2 linked regions of the Homo sapiens genome follow. The protein of the gene in region 1 interacts with the protein of each later gene in a pairwise test. Each region holds a gene or a part of one and is shown in the gene's direction. Other genes may lie near its edges.

Evidence for each region. The genes of interacting proteins can lie anywhere in the genome.
Region 2: the proteins of RAD51 (region 1) and LRATD2 interact in binary tests that used the Homo sapiens proteins (3 or more experiments, as listed by UniProt).

The regions. Positions count from the first base shown.
Region 1 is NC_000015.10:40,705,174-40,708,673, forward strand, and holds part of RAD51 (DNA repair protein RAD51 homolog 1), read left to right. Parts: intron 1-1,003; coding exon 1,004-1,121; intron 1,122-3,500.
Region 2 is NC_000008.11:126,551,943-126,554,456, reverse strand, and holds the end of LRATD2 (protein LRATD2), read left to right. Parts: 3' UTR 1-2,014; downstream 2,015-2,514.

The DNA.
Region 1 (3,500 bases):
CATACGTTTTGGTATATCTTCGTTTTCATTCATTGCAAAAACATTTTCTGATTTCCCTTGTCATTTCTTCTTTGACTTGTTGCTTATTTAGGAGTGTGTTGCTTTATTTTTGCATATTTGTGAATGCACTTACTTTTCAATTTTAGAATCAACCCATAGTGCTATTACAGAACACTTATCTGTAATTACAAAATAGAATGTGAATGTTCTCAGCCAGACAATATGAAAGAAAAGGTACAGCTGATAGAGGTGGGGAAGTAGCCATGGAGAGAGAAAAGATTGAAGGGCAAATGTCCTCATTTTTACAAAGTAGGAAGTTAAGGGATACAGTCTGCGGTTGATGGAGCAGGAAATGAAGGTGTACTGTATTGTCATTTTTGTCATAAATTGGGCAAAACACATATGTACGGATCTCTAATAGTTTTTTGTTTTGTTTTGTTTTGTTTTTTGAGACAGAGTCTCGCTCTGTCCCCCAGGCTGGAGTACAGTGGCGCGATCTCGGCTCACTGCAAGCTCCGCCTCCCGGGTTCACGCCTTTCTCCTGCCTCAGCCTACCAAGTAGCTGGGACTTCAGGCACCCGCCACCACGCCCGACTAATTTTTTGTATTTTTTTAGTAGAGATGGGGTTTCACCATGTTAGCCAGGATGGTCTCGATCTCCTGACGTTGTGATCCGCCTGCCTTGGCCTTCCAAAGTGCTGGGATTACAGGCGTGAGCCATCGCACCCGGCCGGATCTATAATAGTTTTTAAAACTATATTAATATATTAACTTGAATTGGCAATTTAAAAATTGATCTTCATGGAATCTCTGAATTAGATTATCCTTTTTTATGACTTTCTAAAGAGAAATCATCCTGGTAATTTTATTTGATATTTTCTCTTCCCATTGCACACCTTGTTTTACTAATATTTCTTTTTTCTTTATATATATTTTTTTGCCATCAAGATCACTGTGGTAAGGAATATTATTTTGTTGATTTAATATTTCTTATTTTTCCCAGGCTGAGGCAGCTAAATTAGTTCCAATGGGTTTCACCACTGCAACTGAATTCCACCAAAGGCGGTCAGAGATCATACAGATTACTACTGGCTCCAAAGAGCTTGACAAACTACTTCAAGGTGTAGTAATCCTTTATCCTGTGTTGTGAACTCTAGTTAGGAAAGCTTCCAGGTTATAAAACAAAACTGAAATATTTGTGTAGCATTTCCTTGTTAGATAATGATAAAGAGATAGAGGAAGGCCAGGTGCAGTGGCTTATGCCTGTAATCTCAGCACTTTGGGAGGCTGAGGTGGGCAGATCACCTGAGGCTGGGAGTTCGAGACCAGCCCAGCCAACATGGAGAAACCTATTAAAAATACAAAATTAGTTGGGCATGGTGGCACATGCCTGTAATCCCTGTAGGTGCACATGCCTACTCGGGAGGCAGAGGCAGGAGAATCACTTGAACCCGGAAGACGGAGGTTGCTGTGAGCCAAGATTGTGCCACTGCACTCCAGCCTGGGTGACGAGCAAAACTCTGTCTCAAAAACAAAGAGAGATAAAGGAAGTATCCACATTGAAGAGGTAAGACTGCTGCAAGGTAGGACCTTATTTATAAAATACTAAACTTATCTGCAAATTAAATAATTTAGTCTCCATTTAATATTGTGTTAAGAGAGTAAGCTCCTTTTGCTTAAGGAGGTAACTGTAATTATAACCTACTCTACCACAGGGTTGAAAACCTGATGACTGGTTAAAACATTCCATGTTTGAATACTACTCATTGTGTACACACTAATCTTCAGGACTTCAGGGAAAACTATAAAGCTTTTGACCTTATTATTTATTTTTCGAGACAGGGTCTCACTCTGTCACCCAGGCTGGAGTGCAGTGGCATGGTCTCAGCTCACTGCAACCTCTGCTTCCTGGGCTCAAGTGATCTTCTAGCCTCAGTCTCCCCAAGCTAGGACTATGATCATTTACCACCTGGCTAATTTTTTTTTTTTTTTTTTTTTTTTTTGAGTCGGGGCATCACTCATTATGTTGCCCAGGCTGGTCTCAAAATCCTGAGCTCAAGCCATCCTCCTGCCTCAGCCTCCCAAAGTGCTGGGATTATAGGCTTGAGCCACCTTGCCTGGCCCAATGTCAGTTTTCTTTCCCTTTTTTTTGAGACAGAGTCTCACTCTGTTACCCAGGCTGGAGTGCAGTGGCATAATCTCAGCTCACTGCAACCTCCGCCTCCTGGGTTCAAGTGATTCTCCTGCCTCAGCCTCCCAAGTAGCTGGGACTACAGGCAAGTGCCACCATGCCCAGCTAATTTTTGTATTTTTAGTAGAGATGAGGTTTCACCACGTTGGCTAGGTTGGTCTCGAACTCCTGACCTCAGATGATCTACCCGCCTCAGCCTCCCAAAGTGCTGGGCTTACAGGCGTGAGCCATCATGCCTGGCCCCCAATGTCAGTTTTCTAATATCAGTGCTATACTATCATTATGCAAGAGGTTAACACTGCAGAAGGCTAGGTGCATAGAAATTTCGTATGTTTTTTTTTGTTGTTGTTGGTTTGTTTGTTTGTTTTTTAAAGACAGAGTCTTGCTCTGTTGCCCAGGCTAGAATGCAGTGGCACAATCTCGGCTCATTGCAACCACTGACTCCCAGGTTTGAGCAGTTCTCCTGCCTCAGTCTCCTGAGTAGCTGCAATGACAGGCACCCGCCACCGTGCCTGGCTAATTTTTGTATTTTTAGTAGAGACGGGATTTCACCGTCTTGGCCAGGCTGGTCTCAAAGTCCTGACCTCCTGATCCATCCACCTCGGCCTCCCAAAGTGCTGGGATTACAGGCATGAGCCACTGTGCCCAGCTTTTTTTTTTTTTTTTTTTTTTGAGATGGGGTCTTGCTATGTCACCCCGGCTGGAGTGCAGTGGCATGATCTTGGCTCACTGCCACTTCCGCCCCCAGGTTCAAGCTATTCTTCTGCCTCCGCCTCCCGAGTAGCTGGGACTACAGGCATGCACCACCATGCCCAGCTAATTTTTGTATTTTTAGTAGAGACAGGGTTTCACCATATTGTGCCCAGCTTTTTTTTTTTTTTTTTTGAGGAGTCTCACTTTGTCACCCAGGCTGGAGTGCAGTGGCGTGATCTCGGCTTGCTGCAGCCTCCGCCTCCCAGGTTCAAGTGATTCTCCTGCTTCAGCCTGCTAGTAGCTGGGATTACAGGTGCCCATCACCAGTTCCAGCTAAGTTTTGTATTTTTAGTAGACATGAGGTTTCACCATGTTGGCCAGGCTGGTCTCGAGCTCCTGACCTCAGGTGATCAGCCCGCCTCGGCCCCCTAAAGTGCTGGGATTACAGGTGTGAGCCACCGCACCTGGCCTTATTTGCAGCTATCTATAAATCTAATTATTTCAAAATACTTTTGGTTTATTTGTTTGTTTGTTTGTTTGTTTTGAAACAGGGTCTCACTGTGTCACCCAGGCTAGAGTGCACTGGCACGATTTTGGCTCACTGCAACTTCTGCCT
Region 2 (2,514 bases), on another chromosome or scaffold:
TTTAATACTCTCACAGCTTTGTGTTTATTCTCTTTGCTCATGGAATAGCAGAACAAGATAAACATGGGTTAAGACATTTAGGAGAACCTGCTGTATCTAACCCAGTTGGATTTTCTTTCATGCTTAACACAGTAGTGAAAATAGAAGGTAGGCCGGGCACAGTGGCTCATGCCTGTAATCCCAGCACTTTGGGAGGCTGAGGCAGGTAGATCACCTGAAGTTAGGAGTTCGAGACCAGCCTGGCCAACATGGCGAAACCCTGTCTCTACCACAAATACAGAAAATTAGCTGGGCGTGGTGGCAGGCGCCTGTAATGCCTGCTACTTGGGAGCCTGAGGCAGAAGAATTGCTTGAAGCTGGGAAGCAGAGGTTGCAGTGAGCCGAGATCGCACCACTGCACTCCAGCCTGGGCAGCAGAGCAAGTAGTAATAACCACCGTGTAGACAAGTGGGAGGGAAGAATAGAATGGCACTGTCCAGCTCTGGGCTAGCCAGATCAACTCCCCCACCCGTCTTCTTCCTCTGTCCCAGAATGGAAAATGATGTATGGTCAGTCACGCTGAAGTATAGCAGCGACTGTGTTAAGAGAGAGCAGTGACTCTCTCTTCTAGAGAAGAGGTTTTCAATAACAGGGCTTGGAAATGAACTAGAATAGGAAATAGATCTTTTCAGATGCTGCTTTCCCATGTAATACAAGCGTTTCTACAGGGTACCAGAGGTGTGAAATATGTGACACTTAAGAACAGTGATTTTTATTGGGAATTTTCTTAGGGTTATTACACTTAAAGCAACAACCAACTAGTAACAGCTCCAGGAAAGGGGAATGAATCAACTCTTGGTTCTTTCCTGAAGACGGCAGTGTTGTGGATAAGTGAGTTTTTAATGCCCTGGCAGTGGCTACATTTGACACTTTAGAAAAAATAAACATATTTAATAATTTTTGTTTCTCCTTAGGAATAAGACTGTAGAACTGTTTTGTACTGTGAATTACGGATGCTCTTTGAAGGAAAGAAATATCGATTCTAATGTTCTTCAGAAGTTCTGGCAGGGATAAGCAGGACATCGACTGGAACGTATGCTAAATGAAAGCAGACAAATTTCTATTTTCTTACCTGAGCAAATATTTTATTGAAACTGCTTATGTATGTCAAAGGAGCCCACAACTTCAGCTACACAACTTTTTGTATTGAAAGAACTCATACTTTTTGTAGCTTTTATTTCACATTTAATTTAAAGTGACTTTTAGCACTAAAATGCCTAGAAGATTTTACTCCAGACCTATAAGGAAATGTTTAGTTTTTATGAAAAATGACAAGTCGATGGTTAAACTTCTCATGTCTTTGGTGCTTTGGCCCTAATAGCACTGGACAACACCACGACCACATGGAAACATATTTTTGGAAGCAAAACTTTAATTTTATATAACGTATGCTATGGAGAGCTAAGACAATTTAAGGACTACTTGTTTTCTATTTTTTTTCTTAATAAAATGGAATCCACTGTGTTGAAGACTCTTGATATCATGTGCTTGTCTAACCATTTTTTGTTTTATAAATTAGAATAAAATATAGTTGTGATAATGGTCATCGAATGGATTTGTTTGGAAAGCTACATCTTATTTGTGAAATGTTTTTTAAATCAGAGTAACTATCAACTGATTCAGCTTTTTGTTGTTTTGTTCTTGGCTATAATACTTGTGACTCATGAAGAATTATGTTGACAAACAGGATAAATTCCACATGCATTTTATTTCCCAGTGAGTTGTATAAACTTTATTTTTGTTGAAGGTTGTATGTTAAATCAATGTTACATTCTTATATCACTTCTTGAGAAGGAAGTTCCGATTTGAAATTGTATCATTTCCTTCAAAATGAAGGGCAGTGCTTAGTTAAATAAAAGATTGATGATATCTTTTAAGCCATTTCCTCTTCACTATGTCTTATTAAAATAAAACCTGTCAAGTTCTTTTCAAAAGATGCTATGAGCGTTTCCAATAAACCATCTATTAGAGTTCACTGGATTTTTTTCCACTTGAATACCTTTTTTCTGACATTTTTGGTCCAAATTCAAGCTACTCAGTTTCCTATAATTTCTCTGAGAATATTAGCGTGCATCACCTTTGTATTGCACAGTAAACATTTTGTTGAATTCATTTAGTGACTGAAAACCCTGCATCTACTTTGTGAAAATCAGTTATTGCTGAACTATCAGTGTTCATGAAAAATGACTTATGAACATAAATTTTCAATACATAGTGATTTTTCAGAATCCATGCAAAAATTGTTGGAAACCACACTCATTATGGAGTCTACACTGGGCAGTCTGTTTAGTAGCCCACCGGGAATCTGTGTTGCATCTTAAGTGGCTTCAGAGTTCCAGATGAAGGGAACGTATTTGCCACATAATTACAGAAAATGGGTGAACATAGTGGCACGGCACTGTTGGCATAAGGGATGCAGGTGCCAGTGGTTGGTAAGAGAACAGATGTGGCATCAGACTGGTGTGTGGGATGCCA